Linked DNA regions of Homo sapiens: all the other regions are linked to region 3. Evidence: fine-mapped expression QTL. A gene starts in region 3. Each other region holds a variant in brackets. All regions are shown on one strand. Distances are from middle to middle. Region 1 overlaps RAD54L2 (RAD54 like 2). Region 2 overlaps RAD54L2 (RAD54 like 2). Region 3 holds the start of GRM2 (glutamate metabotropic receptor 2).

What was found. PIP is the estimated chance that this variant, and not a neighbour inherited with it, causes the effect.
Region 1: its variant is the best candidate, but not a certain one, in a credible set for the expression of GRM2 in subcutaneous fat (GTEx, PIP 0.50).
Region 2: its variant is the best candidate, but not a certain one, in a credible set for the expression of GRM2 in whole blood (TOPMed, PIP 0.75).

What each region holds. Positions count from the first base shown.
Region 1 is chr3:51,615,440-51,620,439 of GRCh38, reverse strand. All of the region lies in intron 3 of RAD54L2 (RAD54 like 2), which reads right to left. Among named protein-coding and RNA genes, the nearest start is that of TEX264, 53 kb to the left of the region's middle. The variant A/G (reference allele first, on the strand shown) is at 2,440.
Region 2 is chr3:51,556,179-51,567,160 of GRCh38, reverse strand. All of the region lies in intron 2 of RAD54L2 (RAD54 like 2), which reads right to left. Among named protein-coding and RNA genes, the nearest start is that of RAD54L2, 23 kb to the right of the region's middle. The variant T/C (reference allele first, on the strand shown) is at 4,980.
Region 3 is chr3:51,699,627-51,710,608 of GRCh38, reverse strand. It overlaps GRM2 (glutamate metabotropic receptor 2), which reads right to left and starts at 3,541. Exons shown (of 6, transcript NM_000839.5): 1 at 3,442-3,541; 2 at 1,176-1,761. The coding sequence starts at 1,625. TEX264 (testis expressed 264, ER-phagy receptor) reads right to left here. Exons shown (of 5, transcript NM_015926.6): 5 at 6,286-6,885. The coding sequence ends at 6,593. RefSeq lists an enhancer at 5,801-6,669.

The sequences.
Region 1 (5,000 bases), 87 kb after region 3:
TAAAAGTTAAAAAAAAAAAAAAAAAAAAAAAAGACCAGTAGGACCAGGCCCAGTGGATCACGCCTGTAATCCCAGCATTCTGGGAGGCTAAGGTGGGAGGATCACTTGACCCCAGGAGTTCAAGACCAGACTGGGCAACATAGAGAAACTGCCATCTCTACAAAAAAAAAAAAAAAAAAAATTAGCTGAGCATAGTGGTGCAGGCCTGTAGCAACCCTGGAGGCTGAGGTGGGAGAACCGCTTGAGCCCAGGAAGTTGAGGCTACAGGGAGCCAAGGTTATACCACTGCACCACACTCTAGTCTGGGCAACAGAGCAAGACCCTGTCTATTAAAACAAAAAAATGAAAAAAAAAGACTCAAAGTCTCACCATATTTCTCCTGATGTGATGCAACTGGATGCACACACTACAAGCTACGATGTCTGTGTGCCAAAAACTCTGCACCGGAGCCTGAACACACCTTAAGATCTCACTCTTAGTTTACAAAAATACAGAGGACAACAGCAGAATGCAGTCTCTACAATACATAATGCACAGAGATATGCATTGTTTAATCAAAATTCACTAGATATGCAAAGAAACAGGAAAATATGATCCATAGCCCAGAAAATTCAGTCAAGAGCAATGTAGATAGACTAAGCTGTTAGACTGCCAGCCAGGACCTTCCTAAATTGCTTACCTTCAGAAGCCAAGAGAAATAATATTGTTTAAAGCCACTAAGTTTCAGGGTGATTTATGACACACCAGTAGTAATTGAAATAGAAATTTGGTATATCGGTCCTGCCACACACAAAAAAATTAAACCATGACACTGTATTTGAGATAATGTGGTGAATGGAAAACTGGAAAGGCCATGAGGAGACCGGTAGTAAAAGCCTACAGGTCATCAAGGACATTGTTGGTAAAGTATAAAGGAAAATGTTATAGGAAACTGGAAAAAAAAAAAAAAGAGAGACACATTGCACTGTGTCAGAAACTTTAGCAACTCTGTCACCTGCAATAATATGAAAAACAGAGATTGAATCCAGAGCAGGCCTATGAGACCTTTTGTTACAGTCTCAAAAATATTTAAGATAGTGCCTAGACCAGGCGTGGTGGCTCACGCCTATAATCCCAGCACTTTGGGAGGCCAAGGCAGACGGATCACGAGGTCAGGAGTTCGAGACCGGCCTGACCAACATGGTGAAACCCCACCTCTACTAAAAATACAAAAAATTAGCCACGCGTGGTGGCGGGTGCCTATAATCCCAGCTACTCAGGAGGCTGAGGCAGGAGAATTGCTTGAACCCGGGAGGCAGAGGTTGCAGTGAGCTGAGATCACGCCACTGCACTCCAGCCTGGGCAACAGAGCAAGACTCTGTCTCAAACAAACAAACAAACAAACAAAAAAGATAGTGCCTCACAGACCTTTTCCAACAGACAAGAGGCCTCCTGAAGATCTTAAAGGCATACCTAGCAGACCTTCTCCATTAAACAGAGCTTAGAAAAATCTTAGAATATTATCCCACAGCAGCTTCAGCAATTTCCCACCCACATTCAAGGGAAAGAAATTAGAATCCACCTCTCAATTGGAGGAGTATCAAGGTCAACTCTAGAAAACCATGTGGGATAGAAGATATTGTTTTATTTATCTATGGAAAAAAGTCTGCCATATTCCACTCTCTGGCCACAGTAACTCACATTCTTGTCATATGCAAAATATACTTCCCTCTCTGAAGAACCCCCCCAAGTCATTACAGCGTCAGCTCAAAGTCCAAGATCTTATTGTCTAACTCAAATTGACATATGGATGTGGCTCTCCACTGTAGTTCCTTGGATACACTTCTTAAGTATAGTTTCTCTGTCCTTCTTTCTTTATTTTTTCAGACAGAGTCTTGCTCTGTCACCCAGTCGGGGGTACGGTGGCACAATCAATGCTCACTGCAGCCACCACCTCCAGGATTCAAGCAACCAATCCTCCCACCTCAGGCCCCTGAGTAGCTGGACCACAGACACACACCATCACATCTGGCTAATTTTGTAATAAAGATTTAATAAAGCAGGACACAAAAAGCTCAAATCACAAAGAAAAAAACTGGTAAAATGTACTTCATCAAAATTTAAAACCTCTGCTCCTCAAAAGACACCCACAGAAAAAGGAAAATCAAGTCACAATCTGGCCACAATCTGGTGCAGTGACTCACGCCTGTAATCCCAGCACTTCGGGAGGCCAAGGCAGGCAGATCACGAGGTCAGGAGAGCGAGACCATCCTGGCTACTAACATGGTGAAACCCTGTCTCCACTTAAAAAAAAAAAAAAAAAAAATACAAAATATTAGCCGGGCATGGTGGCACGTGCCTGTAGTCCCAGCTACTCCGGAGGATGAGGCAAGAGAATTGCTTGAACCCAGGAAGCGGAGGTTGTAATGAGGCGAGATAGCACCACTGCACTCCAGCCTG[A/G]GCGACAGAGTGAGACTCCGTCTCAAAAAAAAAAGACTTACATATCTAGAAACATGTATGTATTAAATATACATTATTTATTATATATTTAAAATGTGGTGTGTGTATTTATATTTTAGAGACAGAATTTTGCTCTGTCACGAGAGTTGAAGTGCTGTGGCACAATCATGGCTCACTCACTGCAGCCTGAAACTCCCAGGTTCAAGTGATCCTCCTGTCAAGTAGTTCTCCTGAGCAGCTGGGACTACAGGCAAGCACTACCACACCTGGCTAATTTTTAAATTTTTTGTAGAGACAGGGTCTCACTATGTTGCCCAGGCTGATCTTAAACTCCTAGCCTCAAGTAATCCTCCCGCCTCAGCCTCCCAAATCTCTGGGGTTACAGACATGAGTCACCATACCTGGCCTAGAATATATTTCTAAAACTCTTGCAATTCAGTAAGACTACACAGAATCCAATAAAAAGGGGCAAATGAGAAGAAACAGATACTTTACAAAAAGAGACATACAAATAGCCAATGAACATGTGAAAAGATGCTCAATATCATTAGAAAAATGCAAATTTAAAATATGAGATGACATTTGACACTCACTAGAATAACTAAAACTAATAACAAGTGCTAACGAAGATGTGGGGCACCTGGAACTCTCATACACTGCTGGCAGGAGTAAAGAGTGGTATAATCACTTTGGGAAACACTTTGGCAGTTTCTTATCAAGTTAAACACATCTATTATATAACCCAGTGATTCACTTCTTGGTATTTTATCTAAGAGAAACGAAAACATATCTATAATTTTGAAAAAAACAGCAAACCATCTCTAGATGAACGTTCAGAGCAGCTTTATTCATAAGAGTCAAGTGTCCATCAACAGATGAATGGATAAACAAGTTTTAGTACACTCATACAATTGGAATACTAAACAATAAAAAGGAACAAACTATGGACACGTGCAACAACACAGATGAATCTCACAGACATTATGCTGAGCAAAAGAGGCCATACACAAAAGAATATGTATTGTATAATTTCATTTACATCAAATTCTAGAATAGGCAAAGCTAATCTATAATGACAGAAATCAGTTCATTGGTTGCCTGGAAAATTAAAGCCCAAAAAGAGGAATTTCTGGGACCATGGATATTTTCTTTTCTTTTCTTTTCTTTTCTTTTGAGACAGAGTCTCACTCTGTCACTCAGGCTGGAATACAGTGGCATGATCCCCATTCACTGCAACCTCCGCCTCCTGGGTTCAAGCAATTTTCCTGCCTCAGCCTCCCAAGTGGCTGGGATTACAGGCGCCTACCACCAAGCCCAGCTAATTTTTCTATTTTTAGTAGAGACGGGGTTTCACCATGTTGGCCAGGCTGGTCTCAAACTCCTCACCTCAGGTGATCCATCCACCTCAGCCTCCCAAAGTGCTGGGATTACAGGCATGAGCCACCACGCCCAGCTGACAGTGGATATTTTCTTTACCTTGATTATTACCTGGATGTATACAACCAACAGTCATGTACATGTGAAATATGTGAGTTTTATTGTATTTAAATTACACATTAATGCTGACTTTTTAAAAAAAAACTTACGATATTGCTAAAGTTATGCTTAGAAGGAAATACATAGCCTTAAATGAACACGTTTAAAAAGAATGAAAGGTAAAAAATCAATGATATAAATTTTCTTCTCAAGAAATTAGAGATACCAGAAGTTGGAAGGGTAGGGAAGAGAGGATGAAGAGAGATTGATTAATGGGTATAAATATACAGTATAATAGAAGAAATAAGACCTAGTGTTTGATAGATCAGTAGGATGACTATACAATACTCTACTGTATTATTTCAAAATAGCTAGAAGGGAATAATTTAAATGTTTCTAGCATAAAGAAAAGATAAATATTGAAGGTTATGGATATCCCAATTATACTGAATTGATCTTGAAAAATATGAATGTATTAAATTATCACGTGTGCCCCCCAAATATGTATATTATGCATCAATTTTAAAAAACTTTTTTTGAAAAAGAAGAAATTAGAGAAAGAACTAGAAATTAAACCCCAGAAAAGTAGTAGGAAGAAAACAAAAAGCAGATTAATAAAACAGAGAAATGAAAAATAATGTTAAGAATAAAAACATTGTAATATTCTTTATAAACCAGACATAAGTTTAAAAAAAGAACAAAACCACAACCAAAACTTGATTGTTTTGAAAAGACAAGTACAAATGCTGCCTCCTCAGAAGACTCCTGACCACTCTAGCTGAAATAGGCCCTTCCTCCCCACTGCTGGGGCTCACTCCTTTATTGTCTACATGATTTTTACCAAGATCTTACCAATTTTAGTAATTTGATCAAACATTTGTCATCTGTCTTCCCTTCTAGAATGCAGCTCCTTGAGGGCAGGGATTATGTCCATCTCATTCACCATTGTATCATTATGCCTGACAAAAATGCCTGTCACATAACAGACATTCAATAATTAATTTTAAATGAGCTTAGTTTTAAAATTTTGCCGCTAGAGTAAAATATGTATGAATAAAAAATCCACTGAGGTATATCAGATCTTA
Region 2 (10,982 bases), 140 kb after region 3:
TGAGATTTGACACTGCAGCAGTTCTGGCAGAAGAGGTTGCCAATCTTGGGGAACAAATAAAAAGATAAGAGATAATGCCTTGGGCTCAAAAAAGCTAAAAAGGAGTAACTATGACCTCTACCTAAAGCCAGGACCTTAAGGAGTTACAATCTCATGAAAGAGTAAACTACAAAAAAATCTGCCAGCCAATACAGAAGACAACATAAAAGCTGCATCAACCTAGGTTGGAGGATGGAGACAAAATGGGAGCCTGTAATCATCAGTCAGCCCTCAAATCAGTTTGAGGTTTAAATATATACTTACCTACACTGTCCAAGAAATTAACCAAAACTAAAGTGGTCCTAGGCAAATGATACATCTTAGGTGCCTAGAAGCAAACGCAAAATAGCTCAGGCACATATCTCAACCCAGGCCATGTGAGATTCCCACAGATAAAGCCTTACTCACAAACTGAATGTACAAACGCACGAGGAACTAATCAAACAGAAGAAAGAGCCAACAGGGTCAACAGACATAACTATCTCTAAAAATGCAGAAAAGATGGTGGTGCATGCCTATAGTCACAGCTATTCAGGAAAGCTTCAGCCTGGGAGTTCGAGGCTGCAGTGAGCTGTGATGGCACCACTACACTCCATCCTGGGTGACAGACTGAGACTCTGTCATTAAAAAAAAAAAAAAAAAAAAAAAAAAAAAACGCAGAAAAGGCTGTGATAAAATTCAGAACCTATTCATGATTACAAAAGCAAACAAACTCTTAGCAAACTTGAAGAAAACTTTCACTGGATAAAGGGAGTCTACTAGAAACAAGCCCCACACAGTATGACTGGGAGTGTACCCTTTAAATTCAGAACAAGATAAGGTTGCATGCTGTCAGTCAGTGTTTCTCTCAACATCAAACTGGAGTCTACAATAAGTAAGACGAAAAAAAGGCAAAGGGACTGGAACAAAGAAAGAAAACTGTAAAGAGTCAAGGATTACATTATTTCAACATAGCAAATCTATAGTCAAACTACTAGACATAAAGGGAGCTCAGTGCTGGGCGCAGTGGCTCACGCCTATAATCCCAGCACTTTGGGAGGCCGAGGCGGGCATATCACGAGGTCAGGAGATCGAGACTATCCTGGCTAACATGGTGAAACCCCATCTCTACTAAAAATACAAAAAATTAGCCAGACATGGTGGCGGGCGCCTGTAGTCCCAGCTACTTGGGAGGCTGAGGCAGGAGAATGGGAGGAACCCGGGAGGCAGAGCTTGCAGTGAGCTGAGATCGCGCCACAGCACTCCAGCCTGGGTGACAGAGCAAGACTCCGTCTCAAAAAAAAAAGGGGGGGGTGGGGGAGCTCAGTAAGGTGGCTACATGAAAGATCAATAAAGAAAAATCTATTTTAGTCTGAACACAGTGGCTCACGCCTGTAATCCCAGCACTTTGGCAGGCCGAGACGGGCGGATCACCTGAGGTCAGGAGTTCAAGACCAGCCTGGCCAACACGGTGAAACCCCATCACTACTAAAAATACAAAAATTAGCCTGGCATGGTGGCACGCACCTGTAATCCTAGCTACTCAGGAAGCTGAGGCAGAAATGCTTGAACTGGGGAGGCAGAGGCTGCAATAAGCTGAGACGGCACCACTGCACTCCAGTGTGGGTGACAGAGTAAGACGCCATCTCAAAAAATACATAAATAAAAATCTATTATATTTCTATGTAGTCACTACCTACAAGTATATAAACACACACACACACATATATATTTTTTAAGACAAGGTCTCATTTTGTCACCCAGGCAGCTGGAGTACAGTGGTGAGATCTCGGCTCACTGCAGCCTGCAGCCTCTACCTCCCAGGCTCAAGCGATTCTTCCATCTCAGCACCCCCACACGCCAACCCAGTAGCTAAGACTACAGGCATGTGCCACCACACCAAGCTAACTTTTTTTCACTTTTTGTAGCAACAGGGTCTATGTGGCCCAGGCTGGAAAGTGTAATTTTTTTAAAATCTTATTTACAATCGCTACAATAACTATATGGTATGTTCCTGACATTCTAGCAACTCATGCAGGCTTCCCCAAGCACCTGAGGACTAGCAATTAGACTGAGTAGTGAGTAGTGCACAGGAGTGAAAAGGCCTCTTTGTTCTAATCTCAGGTCTAGACACTGACTTCAGGAGTGTGATGAACAAAATGGGAAGAAATAAGGCTTCCCTCATTTGAACTTACAGAAAAGAATCAAACATATGATCTTCAAATGAAAAGCTGTTTCTTAACAGCATCCTAACATATAAATAACATGCACTACATGCTCCTGCAAAGCTGTGACTGCTCTCTCTTAACTTTTTCCCCTATTATATTTGAGCCAGTTTCTTTCTTTTTTTAATTTTAAAAATTTAATAAACAGAAAATTAAAAAAATAAACAGAGATGTGGTTTCACCATCTGGCCCAAGCTGGTCTTGAACTCCTGGGCTCAAGCCATCCACCCACCTCAGCCTCCCAAAGTGCTGGGATTACAGGTGTGAGCCACTGCACCTGGCCTGAGCCAGTGTCTTCAACAGGCTATATAGTTAAGCCAAGAAGCCAATGTCTAAGTTTTGCTGAATCCTAGTAATACTGATTTGCCTTATTTAGAAGGCTAAAGGAAAGGGCAGACCCCAAGAGCTCCCCTTATACCTCCTCCTATCCAGTCTCTCCATTCCTAACACCTGACTCTATGTTTACATGTAGATAACAAACCTCCTATCTTCAGTTACAGGACTCCAAATTTAATGTATTCTGTGGCCCAGAGTGAAGCATTCCCTGTTTTCCTGCATAAGGCAGAGACATATTGCTTCACTGCAATTTAAGAGAAGAATAGAAAAGAAACCTCCTATCTTCAGTTACATCTAATGGAGGACTCCAAATCTAATGTATTCTGTGGCCCAAAGTGAAGCACTCCCTGTTTTCCTGTGTAAGGCAGAGACATACTGCTTCATCGCAATTTAAGAGAAGAATAGAAAAGAAGCCTGGCCTGAGATTTCCTAAGGCTTTACCAGGCACTGGGAGCAGCCTCAAACCCTTGAGAAGGGTTTGTATCTATACAAGCCATTAACATCAGGATTAAAATACTATAGCCAGCAGACTCAAAACCCTGAAAAGCCCATTGATACCTAAATCAATTATTTAATTTTGCTTTCCAAAAGTTGTCCCCCTCTGGGCTGCCTTCTAAACTTGACAGGAAGTGGCATGTTTTAAAAAAGATTTACAAATAACCACAGGACATTTAAGGAATTATTTAAGAGAAACCTCAGTGAAAGAAAAGGGATCATCTTGATCTGTGGAGAACAAGCTGATAGTCTACCACCTAATAACTAATCCTCCCACACCTGGGCCTTTTCCAGTGTCAGTGAGAGTCAACACTTTCATTATCTGCAGGCTTAACAATTAGTTAAAACTCACTAAATATATTACCAAATGCTTAAACACAGAAAAAAATAAATAAAAAATAAACCCTTCTCAGCAAAATGATAAAGCAAATGCTACGGTATTATTACTTTCTAACTACTGACCCTGATGATCTTTGATGAACACACCGGGGAGGGAACCGTGGCAAAAACCAGGAGGTCCTTCTACTAAAATGCACATTCTATGCACCCTGACATAAAGAGGCTCTCAGGGCTTGGATCAGGCTGTTCTATGAAGCTTCAGAGAAAAAGTAGATGGGATGGATGAGAACCAATACTTGGAAAGCACCACATGAAATGAAAGCCATTAAAATAAGGAACAGTCTCCTAGGGTACTAGTCCAAAAATGAATATTAAATAGTAATAGAAGTTTAAAAAGGAGGAAGAAGATGGTTCTACAAAGATAGTTCTAATACAGCCAGGTGCCAAAATCTAAACATGCTCTTGTTAATACGTTTACATCCTTCAGGTCAGAAACTGACCCTTACCTACTCAGGTTTTTTAAATTTACAAAACAGCTTACCAATGTGGAAGCTTTGGTGGTCTCTGGAATGTCTAATTCTAGAGAGTCACATCTCCAAAAATTCTGTTCAGCTCAACAAAGACTTATTAAAAAACTACTCTCTACTGGAGACACAAAGATACACACGACAGGTCAGGAAAGGCAAAAAAACACTAAGAGTGAGGCTCAAAGAGAGTTTTGAAGAAAGAATTGGACAGTTAGGTAATGTCCAGGGAATGGGGTAGGCAGAGGTATTGCCTGGGAATGACTTCAAAGATAAGAAATTTCTGGCCAGACTCGGTGGCTCATGCCTATAATCCAGCATTTTGGGAAGCTGAGGTGGGAGAATGGCTTGAGTCCAAGAGTTTGAGATCAGCCTGGGCAACAAAGTGAGACCTCATCTCTACAAAATATCAAGCTGGGTGTGGTGGCTTACACCTGTAATCCCAGAACTTTGGGAAGCCAAGGCAGAAGGATCGCTGAGCACAGACTTTGAGACCAGCCTAGGCAACATAGGGAGACCCCATCTCTACAAAACAAACAAACAAAAAAATTAGCTGGCCAGGCATGGTGGCTCATGCCTGTAATCCCAGCACTCTGGGAGGCCAAGGCGGGTGACCTCCTCACCTGAGGTCAGGAGTTCAAGACCAGCCTGGCCAACATGGTGAAACCCTGTCTGTACTAAAAATACAAAAAATGGCAGGGCACAGTGGCTCACGCCTATAATCCCAGCACTTTCAGAGGCCCAGGCGGGCAGATCACCTGAGGTCCAGAGTTCAAAACCAGCCTGGCCAACATGTTTATTTAGTCTCTACTAAATATACAAAAATTAGCCAGACATGGTGGTGGGTGCCTGTAATCCCAGCTACTTGGGAGGCTGAGGCGGGAGAATTGCTTGAACCCAGGAGGTGGAGGTGGCAGTGAGCCGAGATCACGCCACTGCACTCCAGCCTGGGCAACAAGAGCAAGACTCCATCTCAAAAAAAAATAAAATTTAAAAAATTTAAAGAATAAAAATACAAAAATTAGCTGGGTGTGGTGGCTCA[T/C]ACCTGTAGTCCCAGCTACTTGGGAGGCTGAGGCACGATAATCGCTTGAACCCAGGAGGCAGAGGTTGCAGTGAGCCAATATCACACCACTGCACTCCAGCCTGGGCGACAGAGTGAGACTCGGTCTCAGGGGGAAAAAAAAAAAATTAACTGGGCAGGGTGCCACACACCTATAGTCCCAGTTACTTGGGAGGCTGAGGTGGGGGGATTGCTTGGGCCCAGGAAGTCAAAGTTGCAGTGAGCCACAATTGCGCCACTGCACTCCAGCCTAGGCAACAAAGTGAGACCTTGTCTCAACAATAAATAAATAATAAAAAAAATCAGCCAAGCCAGGCGTGATGACCCACACCTGTAATTCCAGCACTTTGGGAGGCTGAGGCAGAAGGACTGCTTAAGCATAGGAATTCAAGACCAGTCTGGGCAACATAGGGAACAAAAAATAAAATAAAATAATTAGCCAGGAATGGTGGCATGCTCCTGTGGTCCCAACTCCTCAGGAGGCTGAGGTGGGAGGATTGCTTGAGCCTGGGAGGTTGAGGCTGCAGTGAGCCGTGATTGCAACACTGCACTCCAGGGTGGGCAAAAGAGTGAGACTCTGTTTCAAAAAAAAAAAAAGAAAAAGATAAAAGGGAATTTCGGCCGGGCGTGGTGGCTCACGCCTATAATCCCAGCACTTTGGGAGGCAGAGGCGGGCAGATCACCTGAGGTCAGGAGTTCAAGAGCAGCCTGGCCACCATGGTGAAACCCGTCTCTACTAAAAATACAAAAATTAGCCGGGCATGGCGGCACATGCCTGTTATCCCAGCTACTTGGGAGGCTGAGGCAGGAGAATCACTTGAACCCAGGAGGTGGAGGTTGCAATGAACCGAGATCACATTTCTGCACTCCAGCCTGGGTAACAGAGCAACTCTGTCTCACCTAAAAAAAGATAGGGAATTTCATGAACAATGATTCAGAGACAAGAAAGCAGAATGTTTTCAAGGAAATCCAAGCAGTCTGTATTACTAAAGCATAAAGTAGGAAGTATGGGAGAAGAGTAGAAAATGAGCCTGGAGAAGTAACAGGGCCAAGAACATAGGGCAACCTGGAGACCTGCTAAGGAGATAGGATTTTAGCCTCCAAGCAAGAGCAGAATGGTATAAGCAGATCCGTCTTTTATAAAGGTCACTCTGTGGCATAGAATGTTAATGCTTAAAAGAACAGTTTCAAACTGAAAACAAGTACCAGCTCATTTTGCTACATGAGCTTCAGCAAGCTACTTAAATTCTTTGGACCACAGTTTGTTTCCTCACTTGTAAAATGAAGATATTCCCTACCTTCAAATTTTCTTAAGAGGATCAAGTGGTGAAGGAATATAAATTCTACAATAAAGATACCTGGCTCAGTATTTAGCACATTGTATTCAAAACATGGCCTAGAAAAAAAATTTGCTGGAAGAAATGTGGAAGGCGGAATAAAAGGGGATTGAAAATAGAAGGCCAGTTAAAAAGCCAGAGGAAAGGCCAGATTTGAAAACTATTTGGGGGGCCAGGCACGGTGGCTCACACCTGTAATCCCAGCACTTTGGGAGGCAGAGGCAGGTGGATCATGAGGTCAGGAGATCGCAGCCTGGCTAACACAGTGAAACCCTGTCTCTACTAAAAAATATAAAAAATTAGCCAGGCGTGGTGGTGGGCACCTGTAGTCCTAGCTACTACAGGAGGCTGAGGAAGGAGAATGGCGTGATCCCAGGAGGCGGAGCTTGTAGTGAGCAGAGACTGCACCACTGCACTCCAGCCTAGGTGACAGAGCGAGACTCCATCTCAAAAAAAAAAAAAAAGAAAAAAAAGAAAATGATTTGGAAGGTAAAATAAATTATGCTAGTAAAGTATTGCTCTTCAAACCTCAATAAAAGAGTAAAAGACACATGAGGTTTCTTTTCCAGGTTTCCCTAACCAGGGCCTAGAGTGCTATTGTGACCTCCTCCTCAAACACAAGCCCAGGTTGAAAACCAGATGCCACACATATTTCAGCTTTTACTATCAACACTGCTGAAGAGGCCATAGGTATATCATGGGGTGGGAGCTCTTTGGTGTCAGATACCTGGTTTAACAGCACCACTTAACTGGAGCAAATCACTTAGTTTCTCATCTGTACAACTGGCATAATGGCATCCACAGCTCTGTGCTGTGAGGATTCACACAGCATACAACATGGCAATCAGTCAACAGCAGCACATCACAAACAAATCCTACATAGATGTGAAACATACAAAACAGTATCTCTTACAAAAATACTACATAGCCTTATCATATCTGTAGCCCATTTGGAAGCTCCTGTAGCTGAAACTGCCCAGTACTTATCAGTACGTTGGCTCTCATACAGACAACCGGTGTTCCACTTGGAGCAAGATTGTTTTTATTTTCAATATGGGTATAACATCTTCCACCATAATATGTACTATCTGGTTCCTAAACAAATAAAACTGGTTTCAGAGAGCTCATCTCTAGAACAGCAGCTGGGATACAGTTTTACCCAAAAGTTAAGTAAAAATTTGGCGCCAAGCCCAGAAAACATGCATTCCTCACAGACAAAACTGGATAAACCAAATCTACAATGAGTGGATAAAACAGTAGGGAAGGGAAGAGCTCTGAGGAAGCTAGAATAACCCAGATGCAAAGACCCATCCATAATCAAGTGGAATCAAGTGAGGCAGTGGGATGAATCAGTTTGGATCTGAAGCACTCAGGGGAGGCACCGAGTTACCAAGTGTAAGACACCAAACTTACTAAATTTAAGATATCTGGGACATAAATATTCTCCATGTTATTTATGTAACATGAAAGATTTATGCAAGCACAAAAAGCCAAATGTTCTACCCTCATTAAGATTCAAGATTCCTTATAAGAGGTTAGGAAGCTGGAGAGTATAACCTGGGGAGAATATCAGTGGAGATAAAATTTAGACACATTAAATGTGAAAGAGTAACCCTTTCCATTTCAGTGGGCTATTGTCGGCCAGGCGCAGTGGTTCACGCCATTAATACACGCCTGTAATCCCAGCACTTTGGGAGGCCGAGGATGGTGGATCATCTGAGGTCAGGAGTTTGAGACCAGCCTGGGCAACATGGTGAAACCCCCTCTCTACTAAAAATACAAAAAATTTGCCAGGTGTGGTGGTATACGCCTGTAATCCCAGCTACTAGGGAGGTTAAGGCAGTAGAATTGCTTAAACGTGGGAGGCAGAGAATGCAGTAAGCCAAGATCATGCCACTGCACTCCAGCCTGGGCAAGAGTGAGACTCCGTCTCAAAAATAAATAGGCTATTTGTTGATGCTGCTACTATTACACAGTTGATTTCTATTAAGGAATGTATTGACTATATACTTCACAAGGCATTCTTTGCTATTCCACTTATGGGACAGTAAGAGAAGTGCCAGCATGGTGCCTCATGCTTGTAATCCCAGCACTTTGGGAGGCAGAGATGGGAGGATTGCTTGAGCCCAGGAGTTCAAGACCAGCCTGGGTAACATAGCAAGACCCCCATCTCTACAATAATTAAAGAATTAGCCAGGCATAGTGGTACATGTCTGTGGTCCCAGCTACTTGGGAGGCTAAGGTGGGCGGAATCACTTGCACCCAGGCAGTTGAGGCTGCAGTGAACCATAATCACGCCACTGCACTCTAGCCTGAGCAACACAGCAAGCAAGACCCTGTCTCAAAAAAGAGAGAGAGAGAGAGAGAAGTGGACCTTCAAAGGAGAAAGGCTTGCCAAAGTCCCTTTGAAATGAAATTGATATTTAAGATGCTGCTATGGCACATGATTTTGACTAGAAAAAAAATAGTCTTCCTCTAAACATCTAAGAAATTTTTTAAACATTTAATCTAAGAAAAATTTTAAAACATTTAAAACAGGAGCCAACTGACAGATAAGGGCAGGTCACACGTCTCTGGTGGAGAAATTTGGGCTGAGAGCATGGATTCGGTCAATCAGTAAATTCTACTTTGCCCTAAACAGAGCCTTACAAGCCAGACTTGATAAGATTCATAAACAAATCGGCCAGGGGCGGTGGCTCACACCTGTAATCCCAGCCCTTTGGGAAGCTGAGGTGGGCAGATTGGTTGAGCTTATAAATTTGAGACCAGCCTGGGCAACACGGTAAAACCCTCTCTCTACAAAATATACAAAAATTAGCTGGGCATGATGGCACACACCTGTGGTTTCATCTACTCCTGGGGCTGAGGTGAGAGGATCACTTGAGCCTTGGGAGGTGAAGGTTGCAATGAGCAGAGATTGTGCCACTGCAACAGAGCGAGACCTTGTCTCAAAAAAATAAAATAGAATGTTCTTTTTTTTTTTTTTTTTTTTTTTTGAGATGGAGTTTCCCTCTTGTTACCCAGGCTGAAGTGCAGTGGCGCAATCTCGGCTCACTGCAACCTCCACTTTCTGGTTTCAAGCGATTCTCCTGCCTCAGCCTTCCAAGTAGCTAGCATTACAGGCGCCCGCCACCATGCCTGGCTAATTTTTGTATATTTAATAGAGACAGGGTTTCACCACGTTGATCAGGCTGGTCTCAAACTCCTGACCTCGTGATCCACCCACCTCAGCCTCCCAAAGTGTTGAGATTACAGGCGTGTAATTAATAAGAACATAAGAATGTTCTTATTAATTAAACACTCAGTGTCAATGTCTAGATCTAGCTTTAAAATATGCCAACAACAGCCTGGTGCAGTGGCTCACACCTCTAATCCCAGCACTTTGGGAGGCTGAGGCAGGAGGATAGCTTGAGCCCAAGAGTTTTGAGACCAGCCTGGGCAATGTGGTGAGACCCCATCTCTACATAAATTTAAAAATTAGCTGGGCATGGCAGTGTGCACTTGTAGTCTCAGCTACTCAGGAGGCTGAGGTTGGAGAATACTTTGAGCTGGGAAGTCGAGGCTACAGTGAGCCATGCCACTGCATGCCAGCCTGGGCAACAGAGTGAGACCCTGTCTCAAAAAAAAAAAAAAAAAAAAAAAAAAAGCCAACAACAACAAAAAATAGGGAATATATTGAAAAAGATGGAGAAGTATTGATAATTGTTGAAATTGGGTGACAGGTACATGATGCTTCATGATGCTATACTCTCCACAGTTGTACGTGTATGCCAAGCATGTGCAACATCCCTCCCAGCAAGGATGATGGGAAAGGGGGAGTTAGTCAGAACAAGGGAGAATAAACATCAGGAAAAGAATCTTTGGTCCAGGCAACTAGGAACTCACCTCAGAGATATTGCTCAGGAGGAATGCAGGACCAAGCCAGACAACAAAGGATTAAGAGATATATAGGGCCGGGTGCAGTGGCTCACGCCTGTAATCCCAGCACTTTGGGAGGCAGAGGCGGGCGGATCACCTTTGGTCAGGAGTTTGACAACAGCCTGACCAAAATGGAGAAACCCCGTCTATACTAAAAATACAAAATTAGCCGGGCATGGTGGCGCATGGCTGTAATCCCAGCTACTCTGGAGGCTGAGGCAGAAGAATCGCTTGAACCCGGGAGGCGGAGGTTGCAATGAGCCGAGATCATGCCACTGCACTCTAGCCTGGGCAACAAGAGCGAAACTCTGTCTCAAAAAAAAAGAGAGATAGATAAAAGAGAGATAAAGCATCTGGTTGGCACTGAGTGAGGTGGCCCACACCTGTAATCCCAGCACTATGGGTGGCCAAGGCAGGAGGATCACTTGAGGACAGGAGTTTGAGACCAGCCTGGGCAACACAGGGATACCCTGTCTCTACAAAATAAAAAGTAAAATCTAGCCAGCCATGGTGGCACCCGCCTAAGAGGATAGCATGGGCCAGGGAGGTTGAGGCCATAGGGAGCAGATTGCACCACTGCACTACAGCCTGGGTGAAAGAGCAAAACCCTGTCTCAAAAACAAAACAAAACAAAAAAAGGCAATTGGTAAGGAAATGGCAGTAAAACTTAATGAGAGGATGATAAAAAATAAACCAAAGGAGGACAGAAAGAAGAAGGCTAGGCTACCAT
Region 3 (10,982 bases):
TGACTCCCCTACCCTGATTCTCTCCTCTGGCCACTCCTGGCTTCTATCTGGCCACCCCTCTCCAATCCAGGCAGAGATGATCTGACAAGTCAGGAGCCCCTTGGCCGAGAGCCGATTTCACAGTTCCCCTCCACCACTGCCTTGAATGTGGCCCACCTCTCTCTGAGCCTTCGTTTCCTCATCTATAAAATGGGTTAAAAATAATAGCAGCTAATATCAACGGTGCCCTTATGACTTGCCGGGCCCCTGATACATACTATGCATCTATCAACTCATTAAATTTCCATGGCAAACCTCAAAGTAGAAAGTGTTGTGGGCCGGGCACAGTGGCTCATGCCTATAATCCCAGCACTTTGGGAGGCCGAGGCGGGTGGATCACCTGAAGTCGGGAGTTTGAGACCAGCCTGACCAACGTGGTGAGGTCAGGCTCGTCTCTACTAAAAATACAAAAATTAGCCGGGCATGGTGGCAGGCGCCTGTAATCCCAGCTACTTGGGAGGCTGAGGCAGGAGAATCACTTAAACCCGGGAGGCAGAGATTGCAGTGGGCTGAGATCTCACCACTGCACTCCAGCCTGGGAGACAGAGCGATATCCTGTCTCAAAAAAGAAAAAAAAAAAAAGTGTTGTGAATCCAATTTTATAAGGAAGAAGCTGTGACACAGAAAAGAGAAATAACGTGCCATGGTCATGCAGTTAGTAAGTGGGAGACCTGACTATTAAGCCCCTCAGGGTTAACATCAAGGGTGAGGGTGTGTGTGTGTGTGAGGGTGTGTGTGTCTGGGTGTGTGTGTGGGTGTGGGGGTGGGTGTGGGGTGTGTGTGGGTGTGTGGGGTGCGTGTGTGTGGGTGTGTTGGGTGTGTGTGGGTGTGTCGGGTGTGTGTGGGTGTGTGGGGGGCTGTGTGTGTGTGTGAGGGTGTGTGGGGTGTGTGTGTGTGTGTGAGGGTGTGTGTGTGTGTGGGAGTAATGAGAGTAAGATGTTCTCTTGCACAGTCTCTAAAAATCGACCACCATTATGTGACCAGGGCACTTTCTTAGCTTCTGTAAAAGCTACTGCAAGGAAGCTTCTAGTTTCCCTTCCAATTCACAGCAGCCCATGAGCCCCTTTTCAGCAGGAATTCTGGGTCACCACCTCCGGCCTCCCTCCCTAGCCCCCATTTGGGTGGCTTCCACGTACCTGGATGGAGACATCACTGTAGGAACCGCCAATAACACCAGTGATGGCAGTGGGAGCATCACCATGGGTCGCATAAGAGCCGTCGGGGCAGATGTGGCGTGAGCCATCAGCACCACGGCTGAGTGAGGCACGCACAAAGTCCAGTGCCTGCTCCAGCGCATGTGTGTCCTTGGAGCAACTGTCGAGGATGTGTGCACCCAGGCGCACGCCAGGCAGCAGGTGCGGGTCACGGTTGATGCGGTCCAGTGCAAAAAGCATGGCCTCCAGGCGCTGGATGCCACGGTGCTCATTGACAGGACCACAGTCCTCTGCTGGGCCGCCCTTCTGGTGCACTGGGAACAGCCCACCCAGCACCAAGTCTCCCTCCAGGGTCAGCACCTTCTTGGCTGGGCCCTCAGCCACAGCACCCCACAGCAGCAGCAGTGCCAGGAGCGCAAGCAGCGATCCCATGGCCCCAAAGGGGATGGATGGGTCCCGCAGACCTGGGTCTCCAGGGGATGAGATTAGAAGCAGCGAAGGCAAAGAGAGGAGGAAACAGGGACCAGGAAAGGACAGACAAGAAGAGAGATGCGAAGGGACCCAGCTCCTGCAGAGAGATAGAAAGACAGAAAAACAGACCAGGAAAAGTGGAACCTGAGAGCAGCTGCCCCTTCTGACTCTGCCTCCCCACGAGCCCCTTTCCTAGGTACTCAAAAGCCAGGGAGGGACAGGATGGTGTCATTAAGTAGGTTGAGAAGCTCCTGGGACTCCCCTGGACCTGTCTCTCAGCCCTGGCCTCAGCTTGGTGAGAGATGGGCCATATTCCCCTACCAAACTCAGCAGTGGGGAGAGATGCAAGCAGTGAAGTCCCAGGCAGAGGACAGGAGACCCCAGCCAATGCTGACCCCTCTGTAATTCAAAGGGTGTCCAAGAACAGCACAAACCTCCCAGGACCCCGAGGTCAATACCTTTGGAACAGACTATGTCACAGTCACAAACTCAGAGGTCCCCATCCTGAGCCTTGGATTTCCAGAGAGAAGGAACTGCTGTCTCAGGACCCACCAGGGAAGAGGAAGGGAAGCATCTCTAAGGGACAGTCTCCAACCCGTGGGGAGACTGGAGCCCATGTGAACACCCAAGGGTTCTAACCTTTGGTTCTTAAAAAGCCATCCCCACAGTTTGCTGACTGAGGAAGGAATAGAGACACTAAGCCCTGGGAATGAGACAGCAAGGTGGAATGGCTGGCCTCAGGGAGGGTACCCAAGTGGCTCAAGGTCCTAAGTCAACAGGGCAAGCAGATGTTCACGTATGTGTGTGTCAGGGTTGGGGGCTAGAGTCTCCAAACAGTGCTGAGGGTGAGAGTGCGGGACTCTCTAGCTCTGTGTAGAACACTGCTTGAGATTTTGTGCCTCTGTTTTCTCTTCACTCCCGACCCAGCAGAGAAAGTCACCATTTCCAATCTCCCCATCCTCAGCTTCAGGGCCCTGCCCACCCTAGCCATGGCCCTCAGAGACCCCCTCCCTGTCTCTTCCCCACTGCGTCCAATCATTTGTACCCCAGTTGCCTTCCCAAACACACACCCCACAAAGGCTCTCACAATCACACAGGCTTGGAAAGGCTGGGAGAGGGACATACCTCTTTCCTCAGAACAGGAAAGGAAACTGAGTTTGAAGAAGGGCAGCAACTAACTCAAGGACCCCATGTGCTGGCCACGGAGGCTGAGCCTCTTCATTTTGCCCCCTCAGCTCCCCAGGGCAGGGGCACTGGGCTCCTCTGGGGATCAGGAAAGCAGCAGCTTACCCAGGCAAGCGAGGGAGAAGCAGGGAGGAAGACCAGCACAGATGGAGACAGGGACCCAGATGGGGGCTGAAGCCAAAACTGGTCAAGTCGCAAGTCTCCCAGAGGGGAGGCCCAGACGGAAGCTCAGAGGCAGGAAGGGGACAGAAACCCGGAGTCAGACAGCCAGGAGCCTGGGCCACAAAATCTGGGCAGGGAGCGAGCAAGCCTGAGAGGTTGAGACAAAGACGGAGGCACAGACAGAAAGAAGGACCAGAGGACGCTGGAGCAGGAGGAACGGGGGAGTGCGATGTGGGGCGTGCGTTTTCTGGAGAAGAAAGGCGGGACGCCCGGGGCTGTCTTCCCGCTTCCCGGAGCTCTCAGGGAACGCTGTCTGGACACAGCAGCGCGGGCGCCCCACAACTTGAGGGCCCGCAGGACCCTGGGACGTGAGGTAAGGGCCAAAAAGGTCGGCAGCGGCAGCGGCACCACCACCACCGGCTCACCCTACCTGGCGCGCTGGCTCTGGCGCGGAGAGAATCGGAGTGGAGCGGGGGGCGCGAGGCTCCGGCTCCCGCTCGCTCGCTCGCTGGCTCGCTGGCTCTGCGCTCTCCGCCCGCCCGCTCGCCCCGCCGCTTTCAATCGCGGCCCGCCCCGCCCCGCCCCCGGCCCCGGCCCGCCCCCAGCCCCTCCTCCGTTCCTCCAGACGCCAGGTCTCCTGCTCCCAACCCAGCCTCCGCCTCCTCTGGACACTCCGCGCTCCAGCTTTTCTGGGGACCTCAGGGCCTGGAGCTGTCCGCCTCGTGGTGCTGAATCCCCGAGCGCTCTCGCTCTGCGCTGGAGCGGGTGCTTCGTGGCCCACTCCGCCCCATAGTCAGACTACCACCTAGAGAGCATAGGTGGGGGGCGGGGGGATGCCACGGGGCACGGGGTGGGGAAGGTCACTGCGCCCCGACAGGTGCCCATAGTGCTACTGCAGAGTGGAGGAGCTGGCCTTAGTGCAAGGGGTGCCTCTGGGGGATAGGTAAAGGGGCGCGTGGGAGACGGGTGGAGTCTATTCTCCCCACTCAGCGATTTCAGCTGGGTCCACATCCCAGGCCTGAGTTGGAGGCATGTGTCCTCTGCCACTTTTGAGACCTGGAGCCAGAGTCACTATGAGGAAAAGATTGGGGGAAGGGAGAGGTCAGAGGAGAATGGGGCCTCCCCTTCCTTCCTGCAGATGCCCTTTAAACCTGCCACCCACTCCCATGTAAAAAGGGTATTTAAGCAAGGAGAGAGCAACCTGCAGGAAGGGCTGCAGAACCAAGTACTAGGGTCAACCCTGAGGGAGTGTTAGGGATGGCAGGGGCATCTGGGAGGGGAGGGGCCTAGGGAAAGGCTTCTGGAACTGGCTGCTGCGTAGGAGGGAGTGAGAGCTGGAGCCCAAGCAGAGGGAGGACAGCTCTGAGAAGATTCTCTTGACTCTTCCCTCCCACAGCAGGATGGGGAAGGACGCCCCTGGGTAGAGGGTAGTGGATAAGCTGTAGTGCCAGACTGTGCTGAAGGAATGGGGATTAGAGAGCCTGTGCTATCTGCCCCTAACATGTGCACACACTAACAAGTGCCAAGGGGCATGGCATCCCTACACACATTCCCGACACTGCCCTTTCTTCCACAGGTGTCAGTGGAAGCAAGGCCAGCTCAGATACATGCTAATGAACATGCCAAGCCCAGACCCCTCAGGCACACACACCCACATGTGCGTGTGGCAGTCCGTAGGGGTGCGGGGGTGATCACCAAGGACGAGCTTTTTCCCTGGACACAGAAACCTGATGTCCTGCTGCTGTGGAAAGAATACAGCTTTGAAACGAAACAGACACATAAAACCCAAACAAACACAAGCCCCATCACTAACAGGAGACAAGGTGGCAGTGGGAGACAGACATGCTGTCTTCCACCTCCAACTCTGCCACCGGCTGCTCTCACCCTCTCTGGCTGCCTCAGAGCAACAGCTCCCTGGGGTAGGTGAGCAATGGGCCAGGCCTCTGGAGCAGAGGGGTTGACAGCAGGAGGGTGCTGAGGTGAGGAGTCACACACTCCTTCTAGCCACACTCCCAACCTGCTCAACAAGTCAGCCTCACAAAAGGCACAGGGCTGTAAACACAGATATGGCTGTGTACAGCATCAGCCAGAAAAGCCCATGATGTGGCCTGCAGCAAACAAGCTGCACAGTCGCAGCACATGGACACACAGTTACACACAGCTAGGCAGCCACCACTCCCAGCTGTGTGCACACGGATGAGGACATACACTTAGCCTTACACAGTTGTAAATGTGGACATGGCCACATGCATAGTACACATAAACATGCAACCACACACAGCTATACTTGTAGACAGCCATAATACACATGGGCACACCCCTGCCCCTAAGAACATGTGACCATGTCTACACACGGCTGCACATGTGGACACAGCCACATATATACAGCTGCTCACACAAGGACATGCCACAAATAGCTGTCCACCAAGACATGTCCACACATACATGGCCATAATTATGGATATACGGCTGCAGGACACATAGCAAATGTGTGTTTTTATATGTGGACACATAGCAAAACACATAGCTTTATACATGAACGTCATGAACATCACCATACACACAGTTGTACAGACACAGCCACACACAGTTGTACATGAACAAAGCCCCCATAGAGATGCTGTTAGCCAGCCTCACATGCTCCTATAATACAACCATACACAGACACAAAGCACAGCAATACACACACACACACACACACACACACACACTCACACAGGCACACAGCCATCCACACAGACTCAGCCATGCTCAGGTACAATCATACCCTGATGCTCACCTGGGCACAGCTTTACCCAAGCAGCCCCATCCATCCGTGGTTACACAGAGCCAAATGCATGAGCGTGGGTGCACATGCACACACACAGGTACACAGCCACTGGCAGGCACAGTGGGGGAGCCTCGCCTACTGGGGAAGTACCAGCGTGCAGGCACACTAGTCACAGACACAAAGGCATCCCTTGGAGGCAGATGAAGACAGGCTGTGAGCTCCCCATTCCTGAGCCCTGAAGGGCACCCCATACTCAGCTCTCACCCAAGCCAGGCTCTGCTTGCTCTCTGGCAGCTGCAATGGAGGGGCAGCTGGCCACTGGGGTCACAGAGCAGGACGTGGAGGATCTCTAACTCCCCTCCTCCCCCAACCCCAGGGTACCTGCCATGTTCCTTCCATTCTTTGTCCTGGGGAGGGGAGGCTCCTTCCCACTCCCAGCCTATCTGTACAGCCATCCCCCCACCGCCCCCAACCAAGGCAGAACAAACAAATACACAACCCAAATCCAGGTGAAACAAGTAAATCATTGGCTTTATTCTGGGTCCTGGAAGCTCCACTGTGAGTCTGAAAAAAAGACACAACAGGGGTGGCAGCCCTGGGGGCTGGTGCAGAAAATAGTCCCTGGCTCCTCTGGCCCTGGGAGCCTAAAGGGCAGTGAGGAGAAGGCTTAGCAAGAGGCCTGGAGCAGGGGAAGTCAGGTCCCTCAGGAACCCCTCCTCCCCCAGAGGAAGGAGGAAGAGGGCTGGAGAGTCTGCTGGAGAGTCTGCTCAGTTCCTCAGCAACTGCACTGCAGGAGGGTGCAGGCCATGGGTTACTCCTTGCCCTTCTCAGGGGCAGTGGGCTCCCAGAGCCACTTGGTAGTCCCCAGGGGCTCAGTCCCAGGGTCCAGCCGTGACTCCCCTAAGGGCCCCTCGCCCTCCAAGTCCAGCTCCTCAAAAGAGGAGCCGCTGGCACCTGACTCGCTGTAGCTGTGCTCGCTGCGGGTGTCACCGTCATCCCAGCCACGGCTGCTCGCCCCAGGTGACAGTGTGGCAGCTGAAGTCTCCCGGCTGCCAGGGCTCACTTCCAAGCTTACAGAACTCGTGTCACTCATTGTGTCAGCTCCTATGACCAGGAAAAGGGAGCACAGGTTAGCTAGGACCACCCCACCCCCTCCTCCAGGGAGAGGCAACTCAGCACGCAGTGCACTCATGAATAATGCAGCCTCCCGGGCTCAGGGGGCTTGCTCCAGCTGCCCTCTGCCCTCTACCCTGACTGGGGCTGCACAGACAGGGCAGAGGGAAAGAGCTGGGAGGAAGGGAGGGAGGGAAGGAGGGAGGGAGGGAGAGAGGGTGGGAGGAGGCAGCTGTGCACTCTTCTCCCCACTCTAAATTAGCCTCAGCTCCCTGCACTTCCACAAAGCCTGCTGCCCTCCCCCCACATTTATTAAGGGCCACTCAGCCCTGAGGTGAGGAGCTGAGGTAGAACAAAGAGACACAAGTAGTGTCCTCTCCACCTTCCCCCACCCCCACTTCAAGCTTGGAAAGAGATGTGTCCAGGGCCAGCTACAGAACATCACCCACAGGGCACGAGGACTGCAGAATGCAGCAGGAGGCCCCTCTGCAGCCCTCCCCCGTGCAGGGCTCCCAGGAGCAGCATCCAGGGAGTCAGCAGGCCCCTGCCTCTGGTACACACCAAGTCCCAGTTGAGGAGGGAGCTGAAGTACGAGGAGGATGGAGAAGGCCTGAGAAATACTCAACCAGCTGCAAGGAGGAGGGTGCTGGGATGAAACATGTTAAGGGTTTTCTCTCCCTATGCCTGGGTCGACCCTGAGAAACCCTTACCCACCCCACCCCCAATGACTGGTGCTTCCTGAGCCACAAGATAGCAAAAGGGGATGATGAGAGCACTCTGCTGGTGGTTGGGGTGCCCCAAACCAGTGCTGAGCCAGGTTGATGGCCCAAACTCCTTCTAACCTGCTCCTTCCACCCCCAATACATCCTCCAAGCAAGCAGCCCCTTCATCTGCCCTGTCCAGGAGCAACCCCTGGGTTCATCTCCCTGGATCAGAGGCACTGAATGCAGGCTGGGGTGGCAAGGAGGAACACATGGCTCAGGCTCGCTGTGTGCAGGAATCCAGACTGGGAGAAAGTGGATCTGCTACCCTTCCTGTATGATGGGGAGAGGGTCAGCTGTCAAACATCACAGAAGGTGAGGGGTTAGCCAGCTTCCCCAGCCACTGTCTCCATGGTGTTGGAGCCAAGCCAGGTGCAGCTGGGGTCTGCTTGGCGCCTGGACTCAGCCTGGGGCTTTCCTTGAGCCTCAAATGGGGCCTAGGTTGGGGGTGGGAGAATTAGGAGAGGGGGGAATTTGGGGTCTCTCCCTACCCCCACCACCCACTCAGCCCCCAGAATATGCCCTCTGGGCGCTACTGGCAGAGGTGAGGTGAGCCCTAGAAGCCCAGGCTGCTGGCCCAGGGCCCTCCTCTTGCTGAGGCCCCAGGTGTGGCTCCCAGGACAGAAGCCTGTGAATGAGGTGGTCAGGGAGCTGGGGGAGCTTTAAGTTTTGGGTAGTTTCTTCTGACCAGGGGACAGGATGCCAGGCCCTCACTGCTCCTTAAATAATGATCAGTGCCCCAGGGACCGCAGGCCTGAAAAGAGCAAAGGAGGGAGACAGTTTCTCCCTGGCCCTATTAAACTGTATGTTCTGTCTGCCCACCCACCCAATGGCTCTCTTGGGACCCCAGGTATAGGAATGTGCCTGCTTCCCAGCATGCTACCTCCTACCACCCAGCTCCTAGGCTAGGAATGTTCAGAGGAAGGAGCCTAGGGGTGCCTCCTTCAGGCCAGGACAGCCTGCTGAAATGAAGACAGCCCCTGGAGACATATATACACTTCAAGCAAAGGAATTCAGCTGGAGGCCAGGCACGGTGGCTCACGCCTGTAATCCCAGCACTTTGGGAAGCTGAGGCAGGTGGATCACATGAGGTCAGGAGTTCCAGACCAGCCTGGCCAACATGGCAAAACCCCATCTCTACTAAAAATACAAAAATTAGCCGGGCATGGTGGCAGGCACCTGTAATCCCAGCTACTCAGGAAGCTGAGGCAGGAGAATCGCTTGAACCCACGAGGTGGAGGTTGCAGTGAGCCAAGATCATGCCATTTCACTCCAGCCTGGGCAAAAAAGGAAAACTGTCTTTAAAAACAAACAAACAAAAAAAAGGAATCCAGCTGGGCATGGTGGCTCATCCCTAGAATCCCAACACTTTGGGAGGCTGAGGCAGGATCACTTGAGCTAACAAGTTCAAGGCCAGCCTGGGCAATATGGCGAAACACCATCTCTATAAAAAATACAAAAACTAGCCAAGCATGGTGGTACACGCCTCTTGTCACAGCTACTCAGGAGGCTGAGGTGGGAGGACAGCTTAAGCCTGGGAGGGAAAGGTTACAGTGAGCCGAGATCTTGCCACTGCACCACTCCAGCCTGGGCGATAGAGCCAGACCTTGCCGCAGAAGAAAAAAAAAAAAGGAATGCAATACGGGGAAGTAGCATCCCTATACCCCCACCAAGATCTACACAGGAGGAGGTCCCAGAGTCCCATGCCTGCATCCCTGGGCAGAAGATACCAGGCAAGGCAGGGCCCTACCTAAATCCCCACGACTACTGGGGCAGGGGACTTGAAGCCCACCCCCTTCACCCAAATCCCTCCCTCTCGCTCTGCCCACAGCCAGTGCAAGACGATCAAATATTCATCGCCTCTCTGAAGCTAAATAATACATCAATGTAATAACAGGCACAAGGCAGCTAATCACCCCCTTTCACCTCCCGGCCTAAGCTAGGGCCACAGCAGGGAGGCGGGCAGGGACAGGCCAAGCCTTGGGCAGTCAGACATCCTGCATGCACCCACCACCAACTGCTGTGTCAGTGGCATGCACCTGGTGGGCAAACACCGAGTCCCGCTGGGGTGTCAGGACAGGCCCTGTGAGAGGTGGGCAGACCCCTTGGCCCCAACACCAGGGAGTGGGTGGGCGGGCTGGAGGGGAGGAAAACAGGCTGAGGAGCTGGGGAATGTGGGAGCTGCCACTACAGCCAGCTGTAGTGGGTGCCAAGCAGTCCTTCAATGACCCTGACAGGCAGTGTTTGGGAGGGAAGGAAGCTGGGTGGGTGGGTCAAGGAGGGGGAGGCAGGCAGCAGAGGGAGGTCACAGTAAAGTGAAGGCACTCTGTCTTCCTGCCCTGGAGGCTGCCTGGGCCTGCTGACCTTGTGCCATGTCCTGTGCCCACAGTAGGGGCACTGAAGAGTGTCTGCCGGGCACTACCAGGCAGAAGGGAGCTGTACCCCATGGAGGTAATTAAGTGGCAGATGAAGTTAACTGTGTTGGACACAGGCCCCTAGGGAGTAGAGACTGCTCCCAATACCCTCCTACCCAGCCCTAGCTGACACGTCTCCCTAGGGTGACCTTGGCTGTTGAAGACTGGATGGGCAGAGCATCTGCTAAAGAAGGAGGAGAGGAGGGACAGTTCCTCTCCCCACAGCCCTGTACCACTCCTAGAAGTCACAAACTCCACCAGGTTGGCCAAGGATAAGGCCCCCTGGGACCATCTGGGATGTAACCCAGCAGACCCCCTTGTGCCTGAGACAGCCCGGGGTCACAGATCATTGCAGAGGGGTGGGCAGGCAAGCAGCCTTCCAGCCTGGACCTGGGGCCTTGAGGCTGCCAGCAGGAGTGTGGGCTGGCCCTGGAGAAAGGCACAGGTGACTGATCTCCTGGCTCCCCTCTGCATGCTCCCTGGTTGTTCCCTGGCAGGGAGAAAGCAGCTGGCTCTGGGTGGGGCCCGTACTGAGGGACAAGAGAACACTTTGCTCCCCTCCTTACCTTCCAGATCTATGCCAATCTTACTTCCTGCTGAGCCCCACCCAAGGGACTCCTTTCCTGAGCAGCCTCAGCCCCCTCCCATGAACATCGAGCTGTCTGTGATCTTTGTTTCCAAGGGTACTCCTGCTGCATCTGGAGGGAATCCAGGCAGGGTCTTTGTATCTGTGTTGCCAGGAGGTAATGTGTGTGAATCCACATCTATGTAGATCCATGTGTCTGGGAACAGGCAACTCCACATGTGGGTCCTCAGGTAGGTGGGTCTCCTTCCTCCCTCTGCCAAGCATAGCCTGACACCCACAGTGCCAACCCAGAGAGGGAGGAGCCTCCTCAACCAAGCCCCTGGAGTC